7 linked regions of the Homo sapiens genome follow. The protein of the gene in region 7 purifies or fractionates together with the protein of the main gene of each other region. This does not show direct contact. Each region holds a gene or a part of one and is shown on either strand. Other genes may lie near its edges.

The links.
Region 1: the proteins of IL13RA2 (region 7) and DNAAF5 purify together in Homo sapiens (affinity purification with mass spectrometry; 2 studies listed by BioGRID and IntAct, with this or other methods). This does not show direct contact.
Region 2: the proteins of IL13RA2 (region 7) and RFC4 purify together in Homo sapiens (affinity purification with mass spectrometry; 2 studies listed by BioGRID and IntAct, with this or other methods). This does not show direct contact.
Region 3: the proteins of IL13RA2 (region 7) and MAN1A2 purify together in Homo sapiens (affinity purification with mass spectrometry; 2 studies listed by BioGRID and IntAct, with this or other methods). This does not show direct contact.
Region 4: the proteins of IL13RA2 (region 7) and MTNAP1 purify together in Homo sapiens (affinity purification with mass spectrometry; 2 studies listed by BioGRID and IntAct, with this or other methods). This does not show direct contact.
Region 5: the proteins of IL13RA2 (region 7) and LARP4B purify together in Homo sapiens (affinity purification with mass spectrometry; 2 studies listed by BioGRID and IntAct, with this or other methods). This does not show direct contact.
Region 6: the proteins of IL13RA2 (region 7) and MTFR1 purify together in Homo sapiens (affinity purification with mass spectrometry; 2 studies listed by BioGRID and IntAct, with this or other methods). This does not show direct contact.

The regions. Positions count from the first base shown.
Region 1 is NC_000007.14:760,998-765,078, reverse strand, and holds part of DNAAF5 (dynein axonemal assembly factor 5), read right to left. Parts: intron 3,327-4,081; coding exon 3,183-3,326; intron 1,274-3,182; coding exon 1,105-1,273; intron 1-1,104. UniProt on the Homo sapiens protein: Cytoplasmic protein involved in the delivery of the dynein machinery to the motile cilium.
Region 2 is NC_000003.12:186,792,413-186,796,493, reverse strand, and holds part of RFC4 (replication factor C subunit 4), read left to right. Parts: intron 1-1,716; coding exon 1,717-1,836; intron 1,837-3,546; coding exon 3,547-3,690; intron 3,691-3,883; coding exon 3,884-4,004; intron 4,005-4,081. UniProt on the Homo sapiens protein: Subunit of the replication factor C (RFC) complex which acts during elongation of primed DNA templates by DNA polymerases delta and epsilon, and is necessary for ATP-dependent loading of proliferating cell nuclear antigen (PCNA) onto primed DNA.
Region 3 is NC_000001.11:117,499,672-117,503,752, forward strand, and holds part of MAN1A2 (mannosyl-oligosaccharide 1,2-alpha-mannosidase IB), read left to right. Parts: intron 1-3,183; coding exon 3,184-3,299; intron 3,300-4,081. UniProt on the Homo sapiens protein: Involved in the maturation of Asn-linked oligosaccharides. Progressively trim alpha-1,2-linked mannose residues from Man(9)GlcNAc(2) to produce Man(5)GlcNAc(2).
Region 4 is NC_000017.11:73,242,198-73,246,278, reverse strand, and holds part of MTNAP1 (mitochondrial nucleoid-associated protein 1), read right to left. Parts: exon of another isoform or gene 4,036-4,081; coding exon 3,928-4,035; exon of another isoform or gene 3,857-3,927; coding exon of another isoform or gene 3,847-3,856; intron 3,384-3,846; coding exon 3,276-3,383; intron 1,112-3,275; coding exon of another isoform or gene 1,089-1,111; exon of another isoform or gene 933-1,088; intron 1-932. Other genes in the region: CPSF4L (putative cleavage and polyadenylation specificity factor subunit 4-like protein), read left to right, coding at 3,847-3,856. UniProt on the Homo sapiens protein: Critical regulator of mitochondrial DNA (mtDNA) abundance. Binds dsDNA throughout the mitochondrial genome without sequence specificity and controls mtDNA copy number by promoting its replication.
Region 5 is NC_000010.11:826,802-830,882, forward strand, and holds part of LARP4B (la-related protein 4B), read right to left. Parts: coding exon 4,066-4,081; intron 2,934-4,065; coding exon 2,880-2,933; intron 2,794-2,879; coding exon 2,584-2,793; intron 1-2,583. UniProt on the Homo sapiens protein: Stimulates mRNA translation.
Region 6 is NC_000008.11:65,643,497-65,647,533, forward strand, and holds the start of MTFR1 (mitochondrial fission regulator 1 isoform 1 precursor), read left to right. Parts: upstream 1-1,237; 5' UTR 1,238-1,288; exon of another isoform or gene 1,289-2,999; intron 3,000-4,037. UniProt on the Homo sapiens protein: May play a role in mitochondrial aerobic respiration. May also regulate mitochondrial organization and fission.
Region 7 is NC_000023.11:115,010,844-115,014,924, forward strand, and holds part of IL13RA2 (interleukin-13 receptor subunit alpha-2 precursor), read right to left. Parts: intron 3,732-4,081; coding exon 3,578-3,731; intron 3,047-3,577; coding exon 2,926-3,046; intron 1-2,925. UniProt on the Homo sapiens protein: Cell surface receptor that plays a role in the regulation of IL-13-mediated responses. Functions as a decoy receptor that inhibits IL-13- and IL-4-mediated signal transduction via the JAK-STAT pathway and thereby modulates immune responses and inflammation.

The sequences.
Region 1 (4,081 bases), on a different chromosome or scaffold from region 7:
TGCAGTCACAGCTCACTGAAGCTTCGAACTCCTGGGCTCCAGGGATCCTCCCGCTTCAGCTTCCTGAGTAGCTGGGGCCACAGGCGCACACCACCACGCCTGGCTAACTGTATTTTATTTATTTTTAAATTTTAGATTCAGAGGTGCACGTGCGGTTTTTTTCATCTTTTTGTAGAGATGAGCTCTTGCCGTGTTGGCCAGGCTGGTCTCGAACTCCTGAGCTCAAGTGATCCTCCCACTTCAGCCTCCCAAAGTGCTGGGATTACAGGCGTGAGCCACCACGCCCAGCCAGTATTTTCTTTTCTAATTTGGAAACAGTTTTGAATGCAACTGACAAAGAACAATTTTGGGTATTTTTCCAAGTCTCAGGAAAAAAAAGGTGAGTCCCTACCAGGCACAGAGATTGTGTAAGAACGATCTTAGCATCCTCAGATGCAGAGCACGACCACCCTGGTGCACACATCCAACAGGAGGCGGGGGCACTCGGAGCTGCAGGCGGGAGCGGGAGGGCCGGGGAGGCAAACGAGGAAGAGCTACCGCGGCGAGTTCACGGCCCGTGGAGCAGCGCGGGCCGTGTGTCCCAAGGCACTATGGCTGCTGAGCGGACGTCTCCTTAGGGTTCTGCAGTGGATCTTGCCCCGCGCTGAAGCCCCACTGGGCCACACTGTCCATCCCAGGAAAAGTGGCTGATCCGCAGGCTCAAAGAGAACCACAGAAATGCTGGTCTCAGAGGGGCTGGGGCTAAGGCCCCCATGTCACACACACAGCACCCATGCGGCTAGACATCTAGATTCTGCAACAAAATCCAGACGTATTTAAGAAGCCAGGCTACAAAACAGGCCACGGAAAAGCACACTTTGAAGGTTTCACATGAAAGCGTGTGCCCGGGCCAAGTGGAAGAGCTGCGTCCCACAGTCTTCAATGCGATGCTCCTTAAAATGCTGCTTCTCCCCAGGCAAGAGTGACTATTGGGTACTTTTAACAACACGCTTCAGTGAACCACAGCTCAGCTGGTCGGCGCTGGTACCTGCTGAGCACCTGGGGGAGCAGGTGTGTAGCCTGAGTGGGGCCAGGCACGGCACGCCAGCTGTCGGGACGGCTCACCTGACTGTGCGACGATGACACTGAACTGCAGGAGCTCCGGCGAGTGTGCGGTCCAGTCAAGGTGCGACGCGGTCACCCGCTCCAGGAGGGGACCAATGTGCTTGCGGTAGAGGTCCTGGCAGCTGCTGACACCCTCCACCATGGCCAGTGAGTCCATCGTCTCCTGTGCCTGGAGGTTACAAGTCAGAGACTGAGACAATTCCAACACTCAGGGCTCAAGCCTGCCTGCCTGCTGGGACTCACTATCCCCCTCACGCGTAAGAACCACACAGGCCGGGCCTGCCAGGATAATCGGGAGGGAGGCTGCCACAGGGAGCCCCGCCCAGGGTGCAGGAGAGCGAGAGCCGCGGGTGCAGGGCGAGACCCTGATCCCGTTCACACCAACGCCGTCTCTGCAGCGAATCATGAAGCAGGCACTGTGCACACTGGGATGCACACAGCACAGGTGGTCCTGGGGCTTACACGGACGTGGTGTCCGCCTGGGCAGGCAGGGCTCCTCTGAGGTGGTGAGGAGCAGAGAGGGGCGGGCAAGTGGCTTAAAGAGTTAAGCCCAGCAGACCAGACCTCCAGGTAAAAGTAACTGGGCAGACAGAGATGATAACCTTGGCCACCTTTTACTTTTAGCTGGCTGCTCTCCTTGGGGGCTTAGGAACAGAGGAAGGGCTGAGGCTCCCCGGTGGCCATTGCCCCAAGCCTGGAGTCTGAATCTGGGGCTACCTGGCTTCGTCCCCCATGACCAGCAGGCAAAGACTTTGCTTTTGCTGGTACCTCAGGCCCTAACAGTGACAGCATCTGCTGAGACACACGCCCCTTGGGAAGCTTGTTTTTAGAGGCCCCAAGAAGGAAGGGGAGGGCAGCAGCCTCCTCCACACCAGGTTCCCCATAGTACATTCAGGCCGTAAATCTCCCAGAGAGAGAATCTGCCGAGAGGGGCTGTCCACAGAGACAGAATGGGAGGAGGAACTAAGTCTCAGCTTCCAGAGAGGCAGACAGATACTGGGGCCTCCAGGGGCCCTAGAAGCCCATTAGAAGGTTGGGGTTAAAAGATTTTTGGGCATAATGGCCAGGTGCGGTGGCTCATGCCTATGATCCCAGCCCTTTGGGAGGCTGAGGCAGGTGGATCACCTGCAGTCAGGAGCTTGAGACCAACCTGGCCAACGTGGCAAAACCTTGTCTCTACTAAAAATATAAAAATTAGCCGGGTATGGTGGTGGGCGCCTGTAATCCCGGCTACTCAGGAGGCTGAGGCAGGAGAATCACTTGAACCTGGGAGGCAGAAGTTGCAGTGAGCCGAGATCGCGCCACTGCACTCCAGCCTGGGTGACAGAGCGAGACTCCACTGAAGAAAAAAGATGATTTTTGGGCATAAACAGGGAGCCCATGGGCGAGAAGTACTTCTGAACGCTGTGCTGCAATGAGAGCGGGAAATCACGGTATCTTCTCTCGACTCAGTCACACATGCACATGCACTTTTTTTTTTTTTTGGACGGAGTCTCGCTCTGTTGCTCAGCCCAGGCTGGAGTGCAGTGGCACGATCTTGGCTCACTGCAACCTCTGCTTCCCTGGTTCAAGCAATTTTCCTGCCTCAGCCTCCTGAGTAGCTGGGACTACAGGCACATGCCAACACGCCTGGCTAATTTTTTGTATTTTTAGTAGAGACGGGGTTTCACCATGTTGGTCAGGCTGGTCTCAAACTCCTGACCTCAGGTGATCCGCCCACCTCGGCCTCCCAAAGTGCTGGGATTACAGGCGTGAGATGCCACGCCCAGCGACATGTGCACTATTAAACCCTACTCAAGTGCGCAGGTTTAAAGGTTACGTCTTATTTCTTGTTTGCTTCTTTGCTGAAGACCCTAACATTAAACAGCTGTCTCCACTCCCTGATGCCAGAATACACTGGCAGCTGGAGAGCTGCCCCGAAGGCCGTTGCCCGGGGACTCACCCGCAAGGTTCTCAATCCCTGGTCTTTGCTGGTCAAGCACAGAGGGGATGCATAGGAGACAGTTCACCTCACTTAGAGATGCCTTCCAGCTGTGAGCTCCGCTAGGTCAAGCAGCAGCCACCACTGTCAGCCTTACCTTGTCCCTCAGGCCGGTAGCACCTGCGAGGGCCACTATTGTCAGCAGCACGTCCAAGAGCTGCAGGCTGGCCACGCCACAGTCCTCATGACACACAGACACCAGAGCCTGCACACACAGCAGCAGGCGCTCCAGGTAGAGGTCCTGGAAGAGACCGGCAGCACCGTCAGAGCTTGGTACAATTTGGTCGTGTCCCCACCCGAATCCCATCTTGAACTGTAGCTCCCATAATCCCCACGTATCCTGGGAGGGACCCTGTGGGAGGGAACTGAATCATGGGGGTGGGTCTTTCCCGTGCTGTTCTCTTGATATTAAGTCTCACGAGATCTGATGTTAGTATAAAGGGCAGTTCCCCTGCACACTCTCTCGCCTGCCGCCACGTAAGACGTGACTTTGCTCCTCCTTTGCCTTCCACCATGATGGTGAGGCCTGCACAGCCATGTGGAACTTTGAGTCCATTAAGCCTCTTTTTCTTTATAAATTACCCAGTCTGTGGTAGATCTTTATTAGCGACATGAGAATGGACTAATACAGGGCTCCCGCTCCGGCCCCAGTGTCAGGGCCGACAGAGCCCGCCCGGGGCTCCTAGTCTACGGCTCACGAGGGGCAGCAGCCATGGGAGAGCCCTTGCAGGGAGAGCCCCCAGGCGCTGGAGGTAGGGTGCCGGCATGTCAACCATAAAAGGGCGTGCTTGTTGATGGGAAAACTGAACACAGACTGGGAGCTAAGGAATCTGTGCTTATTTTGTGAAATGTGAACAGGCACTTGAGCTATGTGGTGGAGAAGCTGCGTTAGTGATGCACACGGCACCTGTGAGGGAAATGACGGCGCACTGCATTATCTGCTTTACAACATGCCCAAGTTCTCCCCGCCCTCCAAAGTTAAAAAGAAAAGTGGCC
Region 2 (4,081 bases), on a different chromosome or scaffold from region 7:
AAAAAAAGACGCCACTGAAATCACCAAATGTGTAAGGATTATTAGTTATGTCAAAATGTAAAAGACAAAGGGAGAAGCTGCTATGTGCCTAATATTTTATTTGACAGCAATTTTTTATTCTCAGTAAAATTATAGAAGAACTTTTTTGATTATTCCACAACTCAATCAGATAGAACCAATCTGAATCAGCCTTAACAGTTGTTTATTATTACTTAGAGTAGGTCAGTCCAGATTATACAACTTTTTCTATATCCTTTATGAAATAATGTTTGTCTTTAAAGAACTTACTTTAACAGTGAATTTCATATTTAATATTGTGGCTTTAAAATAGAAAATAGATGCATGTAAATGTTTATGTCCATAAACATGCTTAGGATACCATGCTGATTAGGAAAAATAGAGATGAAACTAAATCACAACTCTTGTTTTTTATTTAAATGTGTGTGTGTGTGTGTGTGTGTGTGTGTAAAAGACTAGAGGGAAGTTTCAAAAACAGTGCTTTGACAGTGTGCCCACTTTTTTCTTTTGATTTCTCAAATTTCTCTACAGTAAGCATATATTACTTTTAGTAATTTTTATTAAAACTCACTTTAAAAACCTGCTCATGTTTTAATCCATTAATTTTCCTTAATCCAGTAGGTTTCCTTATAGCAAACTACCCTGTGGAATTTATTTATTTATTTGTTTATTTATTTATTTTTGAGACAGTGTCTCGCTCTATTGCCCAGGCTGGAGTGCAGTGGTGCGATCTCGGCTCACTGCAACCTCCACATCCCGGGTTCAAGCAATCCTCCTGCCTCAGCCTCCTGAGTAGCTGGCACTACAGGTGCCTGTAACCACGCCCAGCTAATTTTTGTATTTTTAGTAGAGACAGGGTTTCACCACGTTGGTCAGGCTGGTCTCGAACTCCTGACCTCGTGATCCACCCGCCTCGGCCTCCCAAAGTGCTGGGATTACAGGCATGAGCCACCACATCCGGCCGGAAATAATTTAAAATGTGCTATATTATAACATTATTTAAAATTACAGTATTTAAAACTATCTAGATGTCTAACAATAGAAGAATGTGAAGTAAATGATGGTACAGTCATAGGATGGAATATCATATGACTATTAAAATGTTATTTACAGTGGTTTTGATAATATGCCAAGATACTTATTATAAATGCAAAGTGGAAAATCGATTTAAAATTTTATATGTGGGGCCAGGTGTGGTGCCTCACACCTGTAATCCCAACATTTTGGGAGGCCAAGGTGGAAGGATCACCTGAGACCAGCCTGGCCACATAATGAGTCCCTGCCTCTACAAAAAGTAAACAAAATTAGCCAGGTGTGATGGCATGTGCCTATAGTCCCAGCTAGTTGGGAAGCTAAGGTGGGAGGATCATTTGAGCCCAGGAGTTCAAGGCTGCAGTGAGCCATCATCATGCCACTGTTCTCCAGCCTGAGTGACAGAGCAAGACCTTGTCTCCAAAAAAATAAAAAGAAAAGAAATTGTATATGTTATGTAATGTCTACATTTTTTTAAATGCATGGAAAAAAGCCAAAATGTTAACTGCAGCACTCTGCTGAAGCGAGAATGCAAAAGTGATTGTGTGCCTTCTATCCATGTTGTTTACTAGGTGGATTTTAAACGTCTGCAAAGTGTGCAAATGTTAAAATGTGATTTAAGCCTACTTGTGCTCTATGTTTCATATTTGTTTCATTTTGAGATAGGCCTGAACTTTTCCGATTAAGAGTTCTTGAGTTAAATGCATCTGATGAACGTGGAATACAAGTAGTTCGAGAGAAAGTGAAAAATTTTGCTCAATTAACTGTGTCAGGAAGTCGCTCAGAGTAAGTAAATTTGCCCTCCCTCCTCCATAGCATGTATTATTTTAAATATGTATTTCTGCCATCGCTCCTCAGCCTTTTGGCTAAGATCAAGTGTATTTCTGCCAAATTGTCAACTTTTCATGTTAGAAGACTATCCTGCCTGAGGTAAACAGGGATTTAATCAACTACTTATGCTCCTTAGGTGGCAAAGGTCCAGGATTACATTGGTGGTACCTAGACATATGTGTAAATTTTACATGAGCACATTTCAAAATTTGTGAAAGTGAATGACTAATTTTTGATATGCACCTTAAATTGATGGTGCAGTCAGTCACAACCGCTATAGCACCTAATGTATTTTTATGTGAAATGAAGACTGGGAGGTGGACTAAAAGACTCTGAGATCCCTTCTACCATTAATACTTGAAATCTGTTTTCTTGGTATAATTTTCATACAATTATGTTAATGCCACTTTTGGTGGGAGAAAAACTTTAATGGCAGATTACCAAAAATCAATGTACAGAAGGTAATAACCCGCAACGTGGGAGAAAATATTTACAAATCATATACCTAAAAAGGTACTTATATCTAGAACATATGAAGAACTTTAAAAACTCAGTAATAAAAACAAATAACCCAATTAAAAAATGGGCAAAGGCCGGGCGCAGTGGTTCACACCTGTAATCCCAGCACTTTGGGAGGCCGAGGCAGGTGGATCACAAGGTCAGGAGATCGAGACCATCCTGGCGAACATGGTGAAACCCCATCTCTACTAAAAATACAAAAAATTAGCTGGGTGTGGTGGCGGGCGCCTGTAGTCCCAGCTACTCGGGAGGCTGAGGCAGGAGTATGGCGTGAACCCAGGAGGCAGAGCTTGCAGTGAGCCAAGATCGCACCACTGCACTCCAGCCTGGGCGACAGAGCAAGACTCTATCTCAAAAAAAAAAAAAAGGCAAAGGATCTGCATAGACATTTCGTGCATGTGTAATAAGCACATTAAAAGATGCTCATCAACATCATTATCCATTTGGGAAATGAAAATCAAAGCCACATTGAAATACCACGTAACTCCCACTAGGATGGCTATGATAAAAAATACAGAAAATAACTAGCATTGACAAGGATGTGGAGAAATGGTAAACCGCATACATTGCTGGTTGGAATGTAAAATGGTACAGCCTCTTGGAAGACATGTCTGCTCAAAAACATGTACACAAATGTTCACAGCAGCATTATTCTTAATAGCCAAAACATGGAAACAGCCCAAATGTCCAACCGATTAATGGATGAATAAATGTGGTGTATCTATTTGCCATAGTATTTGACAATACAAAGGAATGACGCAAACACATGCTACAATATGGATGAACCTTTAAAATATGTTAAGTGGAAGAAGTCAGCCACAAAAGACTGCATATTATATGTTCCATTCATATCATGTCCAGAATAGGCAAATCTATAGAGATGAAAGTAGACTAATGATTGCCTAGAGCTGGGAATGACTGGGGGAAGAAGAGTGACTCCTAATAGGTACAAAGTTTCTTTTAGGAGTGATAAAAATGTTCTAAAATTAGATTGTGGTAATGGTTGCACAACTTTGTGAACATACAGAAAAACACTGAATTGTACATTTTAAATGGGTGAATTGTATGGTACGTGTATCTTTCAACAAAGCTGTTAAAACCAATATACATATTAATGTTCAACTCTTATGTGTTTCTCTGAATCAGTGGGAAGCCGTGTCCGCCTTTTAAGATTGTGATTCTGGATGAAGCAGATTCTATGACCTCAGCTGCTCAGGCAGCTTTAAGACGTACCATGGAGAAGGAGTCGAAAACCACCCGATTCTGTCTTATCTGTAACTATGTCAGTCGGTATGTATATTGCCCTGAAGACAGATGCTAGGCAGCCTTATTTTCATAACCCAATTAGGGAAAGGAAATTTAGGATTTTCAAGGCTACATTAATTTTTCCTCCATCAAATCTTGATTTGTTCTTGATAAAAATGAGTTCTTTTGGGGAAATTCTTTCTTTAGACACCAACTTGGTTTTTCTCATCTTCCACAGAATAATTGAACCCCTGACCTCTAGATGTTCAAAATTCCGCTTCAAGCCTCTGTCAGATAAAATTCAACAGCAGCGATTACTAGACATTGCCAAGAAGGAAAATGTCAAAATTAGTGATGAGGTAATTACTAATTATTACAATTATTAGAGTTACTAATTCCTTTGATGAATGCATATAAAGAGGCCCTGAAAGATTTA
Region 3 (4,081 bases), on a different chromosome or scaffold from region 7:
ATCTGATGAAGAAACTCTTAGTCAATTTAAGTTTCTGGGCAGTAGAAATAAATCTTACGATATATATTAAATATATATTAAAATATATTAAAAATATATAAATATATATATTTCAAAGGAGGAATTTTTAATGGTTAGTTAAGTAAAGGAAGCAAGTGGTTTACTCTTAAAGTCTTTCAGGGAATCCATAGCTATCAGTACCTAGGGAGGAAAAAACTATTAGTCTTTTATGAAAGTATAGCTTATTCCCAGGGTAAGGGGTTGTTTTATTCTTTGAGATTTACTAATTGTGATAAATAGCACTAATTATGGTGACTATTCGTATTCAAATTGTTTAACTTAAGCTTACAATCTAGATAGAATGACTAAGGACATCCCAAATGAGGTCAGTAGTGCTGGTAAATTGCCCAGACAGGAATGTATGAGATATATTTTAAGGCAAGATGTATACCAGTTTATGTAAAGCGAACGTTTCACAGTGGCAAAGTGGGAGAGAAGATTGGAGCCATTATGTAGACAGCCTTACACACCAAATCAAAGGTTCTTAGTTGTTCAGGAAATAAGACGTGTGCACAACTCCCTCCCCGTAATACACACTCTCTTAGTTACTTCTGTCAGCTACTGCGTTAAGTGCTGTCATATGGGAAATGGTAACAGAAAGTTCTTTGCTTATCCAAAAAGCCCTTCAGATCTTACTTTTCTTTTTTCCTTAGCATCTTCTACCTGCAAAAGCTCCTTGACTTTTGAGAATTCCTTACAGAACTGCTAAATGTTTTATAAGGGGGAAGGAACTCCTGAAGGCTTTTTTCAGTGGGGAGTAACAAAGCAAAAGGATCTGATTGTAATCCACAAATTGGTGGGTTTGGGAGACCACAGCCATAACCTAGGAATAATGTGAGATCTTGAACTAAGGGGAGTACACTTATTTTTCACCTGTCATTCAGACCTAGATAGTCCTGCTGGACTTTAACAATAAGAGCATATTAATGGAAACAAGTGGTTACACAGGACAGGAACAGATGCAGCATTTATTGATGCTGCTTTTCCTTGGCCCCTTGGCTCCAGAATTGGGAGCACAGCTACTAGTGAAATTCTCTGTGTAGGAGGGTGCTGCCACAGTTGAGAAGACAGCCAAACTATTGCCACAGTGGTTTGGGAATAGAATACACACACACTTCTATTGTTAGCAGTGGCTTACTAATGCTTCCGTAAATTAAGCACTCTTTCATGTAAGGGAAATAGGTAAAATAATCATATAATGAATCTGTTTCACTTGAATGTCCCCTGATATTTAATGCTCCTTATTTACAGGAATGAGGGGGATATGTCTGAATCACGTGAGGAGTGGAAAGTGGTGGCAGAAGCACTTTTTGTCATTGAGGAATACTTTAGGATAATTCATCCTTTTCCTAATGTCCTTTTTTCCTGTGTGCTTTCTTCAAGTATGGCCCTACTTTTGTCTGTTAAGGAGAGGTGTGACAGGGTCAAACTTTAGCCCATGTCTGTCTAAATTTGAATTATAGGAGGTAGAATTTTGCTTTTGTAGCCTATATGCACAAACACAAACTCAATGTATAATCGGTCAAGAACAAGAACTAGAGTAGTTATACTCTAAATTCAAGTTTCAGAAGTGTGCAGTGGAAGTGATGAGAAGAGGGAGGAATGGAGGCAAAAGAGGCGGTGTCATATCTTAAATAGTATTTGCTCATGCATCACCATTGGCCTCTCCTCTTGGGTGCGAAGAAAGCAAAGGGAAGGCTGGGTGAGGCAGAATAGCAGTATAGCGTGTCTTCTGTAGCCTTAGCTATTCTGTTTACATATTCAAACTTCCAAACTTGCCCTCATGACTTTAAATGTCTTAAAGATTAGTCATGCCTCCCCACTACTTTCTTATTATTCTTAAACCATTTTGATAGTTCATGTGGTGGTGAAGACACATGATTATTGTGAAGAAAAGTACTTAAAAACTCTTGTATCCAAAATTTCTTTAGAATATATTAGAGAAAAGCACCAAACCCCTTAAATTTAGTTATAATCAAAATGGAGCTATAAAATGAGCAGATTGATTAAATAAACACCTTTTTAATGTTAATTAGCTTTTCATAGGAAGGAGAAGCCCAGAAGAGTAAGAAAAGTAGCAAGACTAGGAACAACAAGCCATGGCAGACAGCGATGGTTAGTTAAGTAACCATGCCTTCATTGGATGACCTTGCAGGGTTAGGTAGAATAGAAAAACAAAACTACCACATGTGCTTTCCACTTTTCATGATTGGTTGAATTCTGGACTGTGCTGTACCTGCATAAGCAGACTGTTTGGTTGCTTTGAATTAAAAAATAAGGTTGTGAATAGATTCCATTTGATTCAGTATATTTTATTTAGGCATGCCCAAAGATGCAAAAAGAGTAAGAATTTTAACTCTCAGTCAAGCAGTAAAGCACAGTAGTTAATAATGTAGAGCAAATTACTCTGTGCCTCAGTTTTCCCATCTGAAAAGTGAGGCTGTTAACCTCATAGAGTTCTGAAATTCAAATGTGACTGTATTTAAAGCTCTTAGAACAGCATTCAGCACATAGTAAATACCTTATAATTGTTAACTCTTTATATTGTAATTATTATTGTAGTAGGTGGGCTCTTTCTGCCAGTTGGTACCACCTGTAATGGCTAACTCATAGGATTATGATAATGCAATGTCTGGCATATGGTATGTATTTAGTAAATATTATCTCTTACCGCTATTACTATAGAGTGCTCCTAAGTAATATTTTTTAGCATGTTGTGGGTTATTGTTTGTCCTTGGAAGTGATAAAATTGCATTAAAAATTGTTAATTGAAACTGACCTCCATCTTGATTTGTTAGAACTAATGGACCTTTATTTTGCCAGACAGACCCCTCATTTAGAAAAAATAGCCTAAATTTGATTTCTAAGTTAGGAAAATATAAGATGTCTTAAAAAGATTAAAGAGTTTTGGAGACAGAGAAGTTCTATAGGAAACATCCTGTTTCTCGTATGAGTTAATTTTTCCAGTATGAGAATATTTCCTTTTGATAATATATTATTCTTAAGCCATCAAATTTTCATACAAATCTTTATGAGCTTTTGACTATTGTCCTTCAAAGTTTTGTTGTCCTTCAAAACTTGAAATTCTACGGAATTGCTTATTTTGTCTGATCTCTTTCATAGGCCATTGAAAAGTATTGCCGAGTTAATGGTGGGTTTTCTGGAGTCAAAGATGTATATTCCTCTACTCCTACACATGATGATGTACAGCAGAGCTTTTTTCTTGCTGAAACATTAAAGTAAGTATATAGCTTTAAAAAATATTTTTATACTAGACTGGTTTTGCTGTGTGATCACTAGATGATGAATTACAACTATGTGACAGGTTACACTAAATTTTGTTGTAAATATCTTTTTATGTAATTGGGTGTGTAAATTTTTAGCTACATCTCAAAAAGAATGACTTAGACTATAAGGTAGGTATTTTATCAAAAAAGTACTTAGTACCTGTTAAAATTTTTTGTTCTTTGCTCTTTAATGTGCATTAAAATCACCTGGAAGGCTTCGTAATACACAGGTAACTAGGTCCACACTCACGAAGTTTCAGTAGATCTGGAGTTTAGCTTAAAAATTTGCATTTCTAACAAGCTCCCATGTGTTACTGATAATGCTGGTCCTGGACTCATACCTGAGCTCCCTACTGTAGCTAATGAAATCTGTTAGGAATGATCATGCAGTTTTGATAGTACTAAATGACCATAGCCACTCATCCACCCGATGAGCCTTACTGTAAAGATACACATAAAAGGAACAATGGAAAAGAGTAGACAACTTTATTTTCGTCTTATACTCCAAACCCCAGGTAGAGGTCTCTGTAAACAGACCTGGAAGAGATGGAGATTGTAAATATGTCCACTTCCCTAAAGACTGACCAAATAAATATCTCTTCATACTCGCTCTTAAATTTATTATTTGTATTTCTTGCATATCTGTACATGAAAGCCTTGTAAACATTTTATTTTTTCAACAAATGTGTATTACCAGGCACTGTTCAAGCCACTTGAGGATGTTTCAGTAGGCA
Region 4 (4,081 bases), on a different chromosome or scaffold from region 7:
TACAGGCGTGAGCCACCGCACCCAGCATTCCTGTAGTTTTAAAAGAGCTGGGACATAAGAGGAACTGACCTCATGTATTTTGGCATGAGGACACCACAAGCAAAGCTGAGACAGACGGGTGTGTGCGTGTGATATATAACTAACCCTCTACGTTAGAAAGGAGGTTGGGGAAACACTTATCCATCAACGTTGCCTAAATTTCCTCAAAGCTTTTTCTACCTGTAAGTATCCAAGTTACTCTCTGTGGGCCAAAGCAGAAGTCAAAAAATCAGACACTGAATAGTTTGATGAGATGAAGAGACACAGAAAACCCACCAGCCAAAAACAACCCTAACAAATGGAGAGGAATTTCTCAGTAATGCACAGAAACTCTTGAGAAAGGGATAGATAGGGGTGGGATTCTGAAAAGTTTCCAGGAAGAGATGATACATTAGCCACCGGTTCATTATTATACTCAATTAAGATGTATAAAATGTGATTTAACATTATAGTTAGTGTGCTATTTTAAAAATCAGCTTAAAAATATTTGTAAGCTTTTTTTCGGAGGCTTACCTGCAACTCGAATGCCCATCCTTAGCTCTTGTGTTTCTCACACCTTATCAAGATCTGGTCAAGGGCCCCAAAGAAACTAAGGGGAAGGGCCTGATGTGGGCTTATTTTCTGCCAATTCAGATACTTTCCTGTATCAACATATAGGTAGTAGTCTGGTATCTCATATAGCTGAATGGTAATGAGATACTAGCTTTTTACTGAGAAGTGACTTCTTAATTTTAGTGATGAACTTTGTCATCTTCACATCTCCTTGAATAACAACTTTATGGTTAAACAAAACTAGTTTTTCTCTAATTCTCAGTTGCTCCTGAGAGCAAGCCAAGAACATCCAGACAGAACCAGATCTGTCTATATTAATAATACGTTTACTTCCTGTATCATTATTTTAGATTCCAATAATTTTATTCTTTATTTTTTTCACTCCCCTCTCCCTGTCCCAAATATTATACATTTTTAAACTGTTAAGTATGTATTGCAGTCGTCTCCACTGTACGCCCTTTGCTGTTCCAGAGCTTTAAGTGATGTCCAGGTCAACACTACTTACGCCACCGCTGCAGCTCTTTGGATAAACAGAGACAAATGTAAGGATCCGAGAGGCCACTTCCAATGACTGTTACTATCTTTTGCCTCTACAGATCATTCTCTTTTTGTTTTATAAGTTTAGAAATAGAGTATTAAGCACAATGAGAAGTTTGTTTCACTTTCTTCAGTCTCTGTTCATTAATGTCAGGTATCAAACAATCCCTTTCAGACTGGTAAAACTTTAAGAAAAGCCCTTTTCTCTGTGGGAGAAATGACTCTTGGTTTTGGGCCTCTCCATTTATGCAGGACGATCAGAAAGGCACTTCTTTTCCTCACCCATGGCCAGGTGTCTGATACAAGAGATGGCGGCGAGGCCATCCCAGCCAGCATGCAGGAGTGCTGCCGCCTTGTTCCTGCTGTCGGACCTACCCGCTACTCACTAGGCACTGATTTCATCAAACGAATCCCAATTAGCATCAAATTGTGATTTTTTTTTTTCTTAAGAAGTCCAGTGTGTGAATTATGCTGGCCTTCAGAATTCATCGTTATCTTGTACTTTTACACCTGAAGTTTTCATCTGAAAGTGGGCTTTTTGTTTTAATTGTACAAAAATACTGGTGGTTTTTTTTTTTTTTTTTTTTTTTTGAGATGCAGTTTCACTTGTTGCCCAGGCTGGAGTAGTGGCGCGATCTCGGCTCACTGCAACCTCTGCCTCCTGGGTTCTAGCAATTCTCCTGCCTCAGCCTCCCGAGTAGCTGGGACTACAGGCGCCCGCCACCACGCCCAGCTAATCTTTGTATTTTTAGTAGAGACAGGGTTTCACCACGTTGGGCAGGCTGGTCTTGAACTCATGACCTCAGGTGATCTGCCAGCCTCGGCCTCCCAAAGTGCTGGGATTACAGGCGTGAGCCACCGCGCCCGGCCCCAAAATACTGGTTTTTGATTGTACAAAAACCAGCACAAAAATTTAATTATACAAAAATGCTGATATTTTTGATACCCACTCATCTTTTTAACTAGAAGGATTTTTTTAATAATACAATAAGAAATGAACAAACACATCTTGAATTAAGATAAATGAAATTAAGGTATTTTCCTTCTGGTTAAGACTTAGTGCAAGCTGAAACTTGGAGAATGGCACTTTGTTTTTTAAGTGTTCAAAGTAGATTAACTGAGATAGCAATAAGACTTAGACACATTGGTAAGTGACAGCTGTATTCTATTCCTCCTTCTCTCTTTTGTGGTGTAAAGGTGTTTGGTTTCAATGCCAAAAAGGTGCTCTTAGGCACCAAGGAAAAGCACCTTCCATTGGAGCAGGGTAACAGTTCTTAGGTACCTGACCTTTTAGCAGGGAAGGGAAAAAAGCTACAAAGGCTGAGTGCGGTGGCTCATGCCTGTAATTCCAGCACTTTGGGAGGCCGAGGCAGGAGAATCATGAGGTCAGGAGTTCGAGACTAGCCTGGCCAATATGGTGAAAACCCTGTCTCTACTAAAAATACAAAAACAAAGTTAGCCAGGCATGGTGACACACACCTGTAGTCCCAGCTACTCAGGAGGCTGAGGCAGAAGAATCACTTGAACCTAGGAGGCAGAGGTTACAGTGAGCTGAGATCATGCCACTGCACTCTAGCCTGGGTGGGAAAAAAAAAAAAAAAAGACAACATGAAATGGAGGACAAGGGCAATTATGTAAATTCTAGTCAAATCTTATACAGGCCATTACAACCAAGCCTCTAATAAAACCCCGGAGCCTGCCAGGTGCAGTGGCTTATGCCTGTAATCTTAGCACTTTGGGAGGCTGAGGTGGGCGGATCACCTGAGGTCGGCAGTTCGAGACCAGCCTGACCCACATGGAGAAACCCCGTCTCTACTAAAAATACAAAATTAGCCGGGCATGGTGGTGCATGCCTATAATCCCAGCTACTCGAGAGGCTGAGGCAGGAGAATCACTTGAACCCAGGAGGCAGAGGTTGCAGTGAGCTGAGATCGTGCCATTGCACTCCAGCCTGGGCAACAAGAGCAAAACTGTATCTCAAAAAAATAAAACCCAGAAACCCCAGGCAATAGCTCATTCACCAGGGCATGCCAGATACTGTAAAGCTGTAAAAAAAAAAAAAAAAAAAAAAAATTCAGAGAATCCCTTGGAGGTCCACATAACGGAATGGGACCTGTTATTTAGGCTAGAAATATAGAAAGACTTACTCAGACGTCTGAAACTCCAGCTACAACACAGGACGAAGTATCCTGTGAAGAGCATCGTGATGCCACCGAATCCACTCTTCCTTATGGTGGTGTTGCACCTGATCCAGCCTGTTCAAAAGGAAACACGGCTTGTTGTTACAGCAACTGAAACTAGGGCCAGTATCCGCGAGTCATTCAAGTTTTCCCAGTTAGCCTGAGTGATGGAACTGTAATTCAGAGATTTACACGCACATATTTTAAACACATAAAGGCTAACATCAAAGAACCTTAACTTGACTAGATTCAAATTAGTTACTCTTGTTTTGGGTGCTTGGTTAAAATCTTTAGTGGGAGGAGGCTAATACAACTGGTTAACTTGAGGTTTAGAGTTTTTCTGGCTTTGGGAGGAGGCACAATCAATGTGGGCAAGGGAAAGTTGGGGGTAGGTATTAAAAAATACAAGCTGTTGAATAAATGGTAGCTGTTATTAGCTTTGGTGCTTTCAATTATGTCCAACTCCAAAATGAACACAGACAAATGGAAAACTAGGAAGACAACACACATTTTAACATTTTTTTCCTCTCCTCTTTAGCCTTGCTTAACAGCCCGAAGAGAAACTTTTCCAAATGCCCAGAACCTGCAACAGAAGACAACAGTCAAACTCCAGCCTCACCTTTTTGTACAGCTCCCAAGAGCCTCATTAGAGAGAAGTTGGAGGTTGTAAGTCCGGCAGGGGGTTCCAAACTCCTTATATGAGTTGAGCTTCGTTCCAACAAAGAAACTATGGTTCCAAACAGAAGTCACTGTCATTGTTTACCGAAACGTAC
Region 5 (4,081 bases), on a different chromosome or scaffold from region 7:
AAGAGAGAAAGGAAAGGAAAAAAGCAAGTAATTCTCCTTAATTAGAGCTAACTGGAAGATATAACAGAAAAAGAATATTATAGCTTAGGACTAAAATAAAATCATACAAAAGGGAAGTTAGAATCTTCAATTTGCTACTTGAGAAACTCTTCACTCTGTAAGAATCGGACTTTTTAAAATACATCACACATGGCCGGGCGCAGTGGCTCATGCCTATAACCCCAGCACTTTGGGAGGCCAAGGGGGGGCGGATCAAAAGGTCAGGAGATCAAGACCATCCTGGCTAACATGGTGAAACCCCGTCTCTACTAAAAATACAAAAAAATTATCCGGGCGTAGTGGCGGGCGCCTGTAGTCCCAGCTACTCAAGAGGCTGAGGCAGGAGAATGGCGTGAACCCGGGAGGCGGAGCTTGCAGTGAGCCAAGATCCGGCCACTGCACTCCAGCCTGGGCGACAGAGAGAGACTCTGTCTCAAAGAAAAAGAAAATACATCACACTTGAAGAGCCATGAATGCAGACCTGGATCTGAGGCTGTAAATCATGGGCAGAGCAATGAGGACTAATCATTTCCAGCAAGTCATTTTACAGACAGAGCCCTGATATTCCAGTAATTTTGCTCAAGATAAAAAATAAAATTGGTCATATATAAAAAATAAAGTTGATTATTAATGCGTTCCTATTATTACTTGTTGGGGATTAATAGGCACAATCTCTTCAGCTGCAGAACAAAGGACGCACATGTTTTAGCACAAGTAAAAGGCTGCGATGGAGAGCCCCAGTATCACAGACTCAGAGCAGGACCAGCTGTCTGGCACACACCGCAACCTGAACATACAACATAAGTCAAGGCCATAAGCTGACCCAGAACCCCAAGGATCCCCGAGAGGGTCAACCATGATTAAAGAAACGGAAGAAGCAACTGCTGCAGGAAGAACTGAAAGGACTAGCATGGCAAGCCACGTGCAGCGATGATTCTTCAACACCCAGAGCCTACGGACTCAAGTCTCTCTGAGGTTCTCTCATGATATGCTTTTGGGAAAACGAAGTATTCAGCTATGGGTACACTTTTATAGAATGTGCTACTTCAAAAAGCCAGAAACTTTTCTTACCATCAGGACTTACTCAAAAGAGACAGAAGTAACTTTACCAAAGGTTCTTACACTGCGGTGGTTCCAGACTCAGGGGGAATTGGGGTCCTCTGAAAATCTCTCCCTGTCCCCACCTGCCCTTCACACGGCCTTAGGAGCTATTTTCTAAATGGAGTATGGTTTCATTTCTCCGCTTAGAAACCTCAGACACCTTCCCACAAGCACTAGGCCAAAGCCCACATGCCTCAGGACAGCTAAGCACCTGCGCAGTTAGGCCTGGAAACTGCCAGCTCGTTCCCCAACTCCCTGCCACCCGGTGTACGCTTCAGCTCAGACACCCATGAATCTACGACCATCTTCTGTTCATGAAACTTCTCTTTGATTCCTTCTGAAAAACTCATACTTAACCTGAAAAGCTCAACCTAGATGACAACACAATCCCTGATAAGACCTGTCAGTGTTCTGGCATTCTGTACACGTGTCTCCTTGGCATGTTTGACTTTTCCAGCCTGAGTTGTTTCATGGACCCGTATCTTTACTTTCCGTGTATACAGGCACTTGTTTTCTCAAGTTCTCTCTGCTCTGCACCTACCCTCCTTTTCTGCCTGTCAGCGGTGACATCCCTGCACATCAGGGTGCCTGGCTCCCAGCCATCCGACCCTGAGGACCACTCAGTCTTTCCCTTAGTCCACAGCGAAACCCTGGACATGAACTCTTCTCAAAGTTACTAACTCAATTTCTGCTTTCTGACCATAACCTTCTATGTATGCTACCCTTCAATCTCTCCAATTCCAACTAACCTGCATTGCTACCTCATGCAAACCTCTAGGCCATGAACCCATCTTCACTTCTCAACTAGACTTCAGCTTCAAGGACATGCTCATCCGTGTATTGCTGACTCTCGTGCATCCAATGCCACCAAACTCATGCTAATTCCCACCCAGAATGCACTTGATCTTTCAAGCATCTATAGCAGCACACAAAGAGACAATGTCTAGATCCAGTACAGACTTATGAATTCCAACCATAGGCCTTAACAAAGGCCAAAATCCATAAAAATTAATCCTGTCGACCAACTCTAATGCTGGTGAGAAGTGAGTAAAATAAGGCTGGTAAAACAGCAGGCCTTCTCCTTGGCCTTGCTGTCAGAAGCCTATTAAACACCTCTTCCTCCTCAGTTAATCCCCCTTGCATTGTACTCTGTGTAGGGGACGCCAGGTACACTACAGCACTTATCGCCCTCTGCGTCTTGCTAAGAGCTGCATGACAAGAGGGGAGACGGGCTGTGCAAGGATTGTGCTCACAGCAATCCAAAGTTCTTTATGCATAAGCTCTGTTCTCAGCTACATTTAAAATCCCCCACATAACTTGAAGGTCTGTTTTAGTATGTCAGACTGCACACATATCTGGCTTCCTATTAGATGAGGATTTTAATCCTTCAAATTATCTAGCATAGTGTCTACAACATAAATTCCTAGTAAAGAAATGACGTACCAAGGGTGGGTCAAGATAGCTGTGCGTTGCTGACCACGTCTGGGGAGTGATCAGGCTGTACAGGGGGAACTGCTGCTGGGGGCTGTACATGGGAGGGAAGTAGAACGACGTCGCGTAGCGCTGCTGGGCATACAGGCTCACGTCCAGGGGTCTAAATCCATTCTTTGGCAAAAATGTGTTTATAGCTATTGCCTTTGCTTTTATCCGTGCCTGTTTGAAAATATGTAAGTTTCTATTAGAATACTTAAGAACATCAATTTGCAAATAAACAAAGTATAACCAATGGTCTTGCTTACCTTAATTGGTTTTCCTTGAAAAGTTTTGACTTCTTCTCGAAGGTATTTGTAAGCCTAAGGGCAAAATTAAGTACAAAATTCCATTCGATTAACCTTATGAATAAGAGGCACCAATAGTTCACTCAATAGCTCAAATAGGGAAATATATAATTAAATTATGGTGAACAGAACCTAGAATAATGATTCTTGACACTCCCTGGGTCACAGATCCCTTAAAATAACCTCATAAGAGCTATGGAACGTGTACCCCAAATTCTCACAAACAAGATTTGTACACAATTTTGTAAGTATTAACAGATGCCATAGAAGTCTCCCAAAGACCACTGGCTAAGAACCTTGACCTGGTGGAAAATGATGAATACTGAGTTCCTAGTATTCATCCCAATTTCAGATTAGGAGAATGCAGTTCAGGAAATACCAGACAGGAAGGAAAAGGATTAGGATCATAACATCCAAAAGTCATTCTTGATATATCTCCTTGTTCTTCTCCATGTTAATTCTACATTAAACCCCTATAAAACTGTGAAGGCCCTGCACCTGATTCAATATCATCCGACCACATTCGCCACACGGGCTGGCAGAGCTCACACTCCACTCCACAAAAATGGTTACTCTATCTTCCGTTCCCCTTTTCCCCCTCCATCCAATTAAAACCCATCTTTCAGGTTTCTGTGTTTTCTTTTCTGAACCCCACATACTGTTTATACCATTTAACACTTTATAATATGTGCGTTAGTTTCCTCACAAATAAGATGCTTCCCTTAAAAGCAGGAAAACTACTAACTCCTCACGCCTCCTTACAGAGCTTACTTCTCAATACCATTAAAAGCATCTTCCAAAATACAATGAAGTCTGCTGGGAGATGAAGATTAGGTTCAAATTTCCCCCCAAACACTTTGCAAATAGTAAAACTTCTCTGCCCAGATAGAAGAACAAAACTGATTTTCCTAGGTTGCTTAGCTTGTTGTCCTTAGAAAGTAAAATCACATGCTTTTTATATTGCTATAAAAATTGTCCATACAAATACACTCAAATATTTAAGTTTCTACAACTTGATTTCCTCTGCAGATTATATTCAAACTTACCATCACAAGTAATCTCAATGCCCAAGTTTAGTCCCAACATGCACTAATAGTAAAAACTGGTAAACTATGCAATTCATAGGGTGATGGTGGAAAGAACTTACCTGTTGTGCATCAGCT
Region 6 (4,037 bases), on a different chromosome or scaffold from region 7:
AACACAAGCTTCATTAGCTTAGCAGTAAATACCCTCCGGAAAGATCTCAGAGGAAGAAATTAGTGCCCTTTGACAGAATCGCCACCGTCCATTGCTCCCACCCTTTCGGCTCCAAAGCTCCTGCTCTTTCATTCAGCCTCAGACAAGCACTCACTTCTCAGGAAGTATTCCCTGAGACATTATGGAGGCGCCCAGGCTCCCACCTCGATTCCATTATAATATTTGATTAAGTTTGTGTTTTTGTTTAGTTTGTGTTATCTCCTCGTTATCTTGTAGGCTCACTTAGGGCGTGGCTCAAGGCTTTTAACAACCTTTCTGCTGTCATAGTTGTCCCCCAACAAGCCGTTGTTGAGTAAATGAGTTAATGCTCTGGGTGAAGGAGGAAAGCCCTCACTAGGAAGAGACTTGTGCCACCCGGGGCAAGAACATCAGAGATCCAGTGACAGCCCAGCGACCTCCGGGATCAATTGCAATGGGAGGGTAAGAGAGACAGCCAATCAGCAACAGCCTCTTCAAAAGCCATACAAAAATACGGACAGGTTTCCTACCCTACATAGGAATCTTTCATCACGCCTACGCACATTACTACACTGCATAAGTTAGCTAGAAATGTAATAATCATATTTTCACGACAATTATTTGAAATCCAGAGTGTCCTAGAGTATTCAAATCTTTAGAAAGCACGTGCCCCAAATGAATCGGACTGAACAGACGCTGGAACCGAACATGGTAAAGTAAAATACTTATCCATGAGGCACTTTGTAATCCCCGCACTCCTGCTCTGCCTAAAGAGAAACATCTCGGATGTGAGGTCCGCATAGGCATTAGATCTGCCGGGTGGACACAGGTCCCTACAGCGTGGGGTGAAATGGGCTCCACATGTTAGGTTAACAAAAGCTTACGACTCGCAGCCTTTTTCAAGGTAATACACATCTGCGGCTACATTCAGAATGTGGGTGTCCCTAAACCCCTAAAGCATGAAGCTGACAAAAGCACTTCCCAGGACAGGACGGTGAAGGCACAAAGCAAGGTCCGCACAAAAGCACACGCCCCTCTCAGAGCTCCGCGCGTGCGCACACCGACTGTGACTCTCAGCAGCCGGCTTGCGGAGCGGTTGCCGCGTCCTCTGCCGAGCTTCTTGTGCCCGCCTCCGAGCCTGAGGAAACAGCTGATTGATCAGCCTGGCTCAGGCTTGGGGCGGGGATTGGCTGATTGGCAGCAACGCCACGGGACAGCCAAGCTAGAAGCCTGAGGAGCCGGAGAGGGTGCTGGCTGCCGCGCGGCCGAGGTGAGTAGGGTGGGAACTCGGAAAAGCGGTTGGCTAGCGGGTGATGAAGTCGGCTGCAGGCCTGACGGCGATGGGATGCCCTGGAAACAGTCAGAACAGGAGCTGAAGGAGCTCGGTTCGGGAACGCAGGGAGGCCGGCGGGATCCTGGGCCGGTTGAGTGTTTGCCCCGCGGCCGGGAGGCAGAGACTGCCTCGGCTGAGGGCGCGTGGGTCGGGGGCTCCGGAGGAGCTGAGGGAAGTCGGCTGACTTGCCCTGAAGGCTGAGACTCGCCCACCCGCCAATCTACCCCTACACCTCCTGCCCCCTCCCCCGACCTTCGGTCCATCTTTCGGACCCCCGGTTCCCGCGCCGGCCGCCAGGCGGCGGTCCTGGGGAGACCGCCCTTCGCGGCGGCTCCCTTGGGTGCTGCGCCCTTAACGGGCTCAGGAGCCGGACTGCGCGGGTGCACCGCCAGCCGGCCTCCGGGAGGAGCAGTGCGCTGGCTGATCCGCCGGGAAGTTTAACCAGCTTCCTGTGGTTGCTGTGTCGCTTTTCGCCTCCTAGAACTTCCCAGTGTATCTTCTGACCATGACCAGGGTTTGCAGGAAACCCCAAAGCCGGCCTTTGGGCATTAACAACAGCAGCATTTTATTATGGAAATCTTCAAACTGTGGAGAAATTGAACGAAGGATATAAGGAATTCACTGTACTCATTACCCAGTTTCAGTAATTATCAATACGTGGGCAGTCTTGCTCCCCTAATCCGGGTTATTTTGCGTTTTTGAGACAGGGTCTCTGTCACCCAGGCTGGAGTGCAGTGGCGGGATCTCTACCCACTGCAGCCTCCACCTCCTGGGCCCCAGCGATCCTCACGCCTCAGCCTCCCCACTAGCTGGGACTACAGGCAGGCGCCATCACGCCCGGCTTTCCCCCCCCCCCCCCTTTGTAGAGATGGGGTCTCCTTATGTTGCTCAGGCTATCTTTGAACTCCTTGGCTTAAGCGATCCTCCCTCCTTGGCCTCCCAAAGTGTTGGGATTACAGGCGGGAGTCATCGCACCCGGCTATCCTGGGTTATTTTGAAGCAAATCCCAGACATTATATAATTTCAATTATTTTACATATTTCTATGCCTCTGTCATGATGAATAATCATACATATAATAATTTGCTTTCTAGAGGGGTCAAGTAAAATAAGGGACATATTAAAGTGTAGACAGTGCTCATTTAGTTTGTACTACCAGAATTTAGGTAACTGCTACAGTGCAGTTTCATTATCTTGTGCTCAGGTTTTCAAAATCAGAGTTACCAGATAATCTAGACAGTAGTGCTCTTGCTTTTGAATAGTAATAATTGTATTGATAATTTCTATTTGTCGAGTTCTTAGTATGTATGAAGGACTGTGAAGTTGTTTCCACCTACTCATTTAATTTTTGCAATAACCCTATGAAGTAGGTATTATTATCCCCATGTTAGAGTTAGGAGAAAGAAATTTGGAGAGGTCACAATTTACCTGAAGTCACACTGCTGAAAGGATGGGGGTGGGGGTAGAATTCAGAATGCTACTCTTGGCCTTTGTCATTGCAAAGTTCTTGCTCTTTTAACTGTAACAATGTCCTAGGAGTTGTGGAATAAATGGAACTGCTGTGGAAAATTATTTCTGTTAAGCCACAAATCAGTAATGGAAAAAAAAAAGCCTGAAAATTTACACAAATACAAACAATAGTGAGAGAGGTATGTTTGTTCTTTGAAAAGTTAAAGATTATTACAACTAAATTTGATGTCCTGAGAAAACATAGCTCAACAAATACAAGTGCTAAAAATTTTATTCTTGGCCAGATGCATGGCTCAGCCGAGCACTTTGCAAAGGCCGAGGCAAGAGGACCCCTTGAGACCAGCCTGGGCAATATAGTGTGACACTGTATTTAAAAAATAAAAGTAAAATAAACATTTTATTCTTTAATATGTAACCAGTTAGAGAGAAAAGGAAAATATACATCAATGAATAGCCTCTACCACTCCTTTAGCACATAGCATATATTGGATATTAATACTAAATATTTCATCTATATCCTTCATCCTCCCAATCTTAAACTACTAAGACAACATCTTCATCCAAATAGTGTTAGATGAATAAGGAATGAGATAGAAACAGCTGGGCCTCCTCTACTTATTCAAAGGACAGTAGAGAAGGACTATTAGCTTGGAGTTTAGGAATCCTACTGGATAGGAGTAATTCAGAAGTCCAGAAGTCAGGTCAGAATCCTTTGTGAAGGAACTTGAGTGCCACTTAAAGAGTTTAAACTTAATGAGCAAAGAAGTGACATGATCAAAGTTATCTTACAGGAAGATAGATACAGGAAGATAGCTGGTACTGTCAAAGGTGGCTTTACCAGTCATGTGAAAGGATTAGCAGTTGGTTGACCTGATAAATATAAAGGAAATAGACGTGGGGAACTGGCAAATTTATGGATATGAGGAAAGGACCAGACAGAGAATACAGCCTGAAACAGAGAAAAGAGAATGGTATATAGTAGGATTTTTTTTGTTTTTGTTTCTGTTTTTTTTGAGATGGAGTTTTACTCTTGTTGCCCAGGATGCAGTGCAGTGGTGTGATCTCTGCTCACTGCAACCTCTGCCTCCTGGGTTCAAGCGATTCTCCTGCCTCAGCCTCCCATGTAGCTGGATTACAGGCGTAGGCCACCACGCCCAGCTAATTTGTATTTTTAGTAGAGACAGAGTTTCACCATGTTGGCCAGGCTGGTCTTGAAC
Region 7 (4,081 bases):
TGTGAGAATTGTGTTTAAATAACAATCTTTTCCAGTATCAAGGCACTTCATTTTCAATTATATTAGGATACCATGTCAGTTTAAAAATCATTTAATAATGTACAATATTTATTAAGCACCTACTATATGTCAGGCACTATGATAAGCAATAGGGAAAAAACAGTAGGGAAAGCAGACATAGTCCCCGATTTCATGGAGCTTACAATTTGTTGGGAGTCCTCGCAAAATCTCAAAGACAAGGATTCTTACTTGTGTACTTAGGTTATATTGATTCATCAACAAGGTTTGTGAATCAAAGAATAAGATTCCTAGTAAGAAAACCTGTGATTTGTACAAATAATCCTGCATGATATTGCCTTTTAAGTTATTTTACTGGGGAAGTTATTTTAAAAGAAAGCAAATTTTAAAGCAGACTTAGAAAATATTATGTTTAATAAAATGAATGAAAATCTGGAGTATACAATACACATCAAGAGATAAACCTCAGAAAAGCCAACTGTAGGAGGGCAAAAGGAAAAAGAAGGAGTTGTTTGGCAAGTAAATATTTAATTTTCTCATCTATTAAATGAGAAATGTTACCATATCATTTTAAGTTAACCTTATTCCAGTAATAAAGCTAAAAGGAACTAGGAGTGATTCCCTACTAAATTCGAAAGCAACAAATGCTTGCTATTTTCCTAAAGAATAGCTTGCAATGCAAACCATGACATTATCTGTAAAAGCAGTCAAATCCCTGTTGAAAAGAGGCCAATGTAGCAGCTGATAAGGTGCCTGTACACATATCTGGACTCTACTAAATTAACCTTATGCCAACTATTTACTTTAGGGAGAGTTTGCAAAATTGTTGTCTCTTGGTTAGTTCACTTGATTAGAGTTTGGGAGACTTCAGTTCCAGGCTTAACTCCATACAGACTTACTTGATGTCAGCAGGGAAGGCTTTATTTTCCAATCTCTAAAATGTTAATGTTTATTCCTCCCTATTTCACCAAGATGAGGATCAAATTATATCAAATATGAACCACAATGTACAGGAGGGCAGAGACTTTCTCTTATTCATGCTTTTGTCCTTTTTATCTAGAACACTGCCTGGCATTTAAAAGATGCTTAATATTTGTTGAATTAATGAACAAATAATTTAGATCTTTGAAATTTACCTATCCAATTCCAGATGAGGAAACAAAAATTCTAAAAGAAAAAATTACTTGCCCAAGGCCGCCAAGTTAAATGATGCTAGAGCAGGGATTAGAACCCAGATCTCAGGATTGTTAATAGTTTATAGCTTATGATTTATCTATTATTATTTTCTAAAGAAAGATGCCATGATAATTTGGAACTAGAACTCACCAATAGTAATGCTTAGTCCTCTCTTGATTTTTCCATTATTTAGTAAATGCATATGTTTGGATAATTACCTATCAGTTTATCAGTGCTATCACTTGTTTCAGCTATGTAATAAATATTTAGTGCTAATCTACTACGGGTATAGTACTTTGGAGGTAGGCAAGAGAAATATAATAAACAATTCATGCCCACCAATCCCTTAAAAATTTAACAGGAGACAAAGCACACATATATGAGAAAAAATTTAAATGCCATCTGGACAATAAACAATTACAGGCTATAAAAAAAAATAGTTCAAGGCCAGGCGCAGTGGCTCACGCCTGTAATCTCAGCGCTTTCGGAGGCTGAGGTGGGCAGATCACTTGAGGTAAGGAGCTTGAGACCAGCATGGGCAACATTGTGAAACCCCATCTCTACTAAAAATGCAAAAGTTAGCCAGGTGTGGTGGCACACGCCCATAATCCCAGCTGCTCGGGAGGCTGAGGCATGAGAATCGCTTGAACCCAGGAGGTGGAGGCTGCAGTGAGCCGAGATGGCACCACTGCACTCCAGCCTGTGTGACAGAGGGAGACTCTTGTCTCAAACAAACAAACAAAAAAAAAAACAAAGTAATAGCTCAAGAAAAACAAAACAGAAGCTGACATGATCAGTTAAAGGTTAATGAAACTGGGGAGCAGATGAGCCTTGAAAAAGATGGATAAAAATTGGTGAAAGAAAGATAGAGCCAGAGGGCATTCCAGAAGGTAATGCAAACAAAGGTATAAAAGGCAATAACACGGGTGAGAAAAAAATGTAGAGATGGATCTAAATTGAGTGGAGCATTCACATTGGTAATAGTAGACAGTATGGCAGCCTAGATTTTATCCTGGGGCAATGAGTAGACACAGGAGGTTTTTGAACAAGAGAGTGGTATATGAAAATGGCAATATAGGAAGATAAAGCTGGCTACAGTGTGCAGAATGAATAAAAAGGGGAGAGATTGGAAGGGGAGAGATTGGGAGCAGAGCGACCGTCATTTTGGAAGCAATGGCAATCATCCAGGTGTGGAATGAGGGAAGCCTAAAGTAGAGCTCTTACAGTAGAGATGGTAGGTACTTAACAGATGTGCAACCTTGCAAAGGAGCATCAGAACATGGTGATCATGTTACCCTAAAACAATTAAGAAATTAAGAAGATACACGAGTCACAATGTCCAAGTTTAAAAGCTTCAGTGACAGTTAACAAAGGAGGGAGTCAGAAAAAAATTCAGTTTAATAGATAACTGATTTTTTAAAAAAACAAGAATATAAAATATGTCAAAATTGTTTAAGTTCTAAATTCATCTATCTAAAGGATACAAAATTAACCCAGTACAGAAACAATTATTGCATTCCTTATATCACCCATAGAATACCTTCCAGTATCTACATCCTAAAACCACTTACACCCATTGAAAACCTCAAATAATTGTAAACAATTATCATCATAAATACAACTCTGACAAGTATAATGAATTTAACTTAGTGAAAATATAGTTTACTCATACTATCGACTAACTTGAGTAGACATTTTTTAATATGGAATTCTAATTATAAAAATACTTACCAGTAAAACAAGTTGTAATTGGTATCAAGAAGTACACCTATGCCAGGTTTCCAAGAACAGAGTAAATATTGCCAATTGTAATATACGCAATCCATATCCTGAACTTTAGTTTCTGGAATTCCTAAGGAACAAATCAACTGTGAATGTTTGAAAGGCTTGGTGATGAATCATTTGTGAAATCATTTCTCAATTTTACTTCATTTCCTATGACCTCTCCATTTTATTTTGCAATCAACATAACAGGATTATTTCAAAAGGAAGTTACTGGGAATCACTTCACGATAAGAGGGACATGCAAAACCAAAAAACATTTGAGGGCTCATTTACTCATATTAGTATAAGCATATGCAAAAGTAGTAAATTGATTATTCTAGGATGCTCTGAGCAGATGAGCAAATACTCATGAATGTTTACTAATATGACCCCAAAACTGGGAACTAAATCAATAAAATAATATACAGGTTTTGCCAAAGGTATTTGCTGATTTAAAGAATTTTAAAAGGCTAATCACCAACTACAAGAAAGATTCTATTTTGTGCCACACTGTCACAGGATCTATTGTGCCTACAGCCTGGTACATAAGATTAAGGGACTTATTCCCAAATGAATTGTTCTGATAGTATTAAATATGAAAAGAGAGCTTTGTTTTAACCTTGTGGTGATATCCAATAAGTAGTTTCTGCCCAGGAACTTTGAACTTCTGATCCATTTGTGCATTGCCATGGTAAAAGCGTGTGTATCTTCGCTTCAATGCCCTTGTTAAGATCAAACCCATCTTTGTAATGTAGATTCTTAGTAATGATGGTCTGTTTGACAAAAAGATGAGACAAAGTCAAGCTTAGAAACCTCCATGGTATAGTGAGCTATATTAATAAGACTAATAAATCATTAATACCCTGGAGAGTTCCCAATATCTAAGACAATCCTAGAGACTATTTGATACAATGCCACAGATACATTTCCAGCAGAGCTCACCTCTGTATGTCATATCATTTTATGAGATCATTTGAATCTTAACATCTAATTCCAAATAAAAACAAAAACTTTTGGAAGGGAAAAAAAACTTTATGGCAGAAACTTGAGCTATATCTGCTTGGAATCAAATAGATAATTTTCATATACCATAGGCACATTACTTGGCAAATCATGCCACATT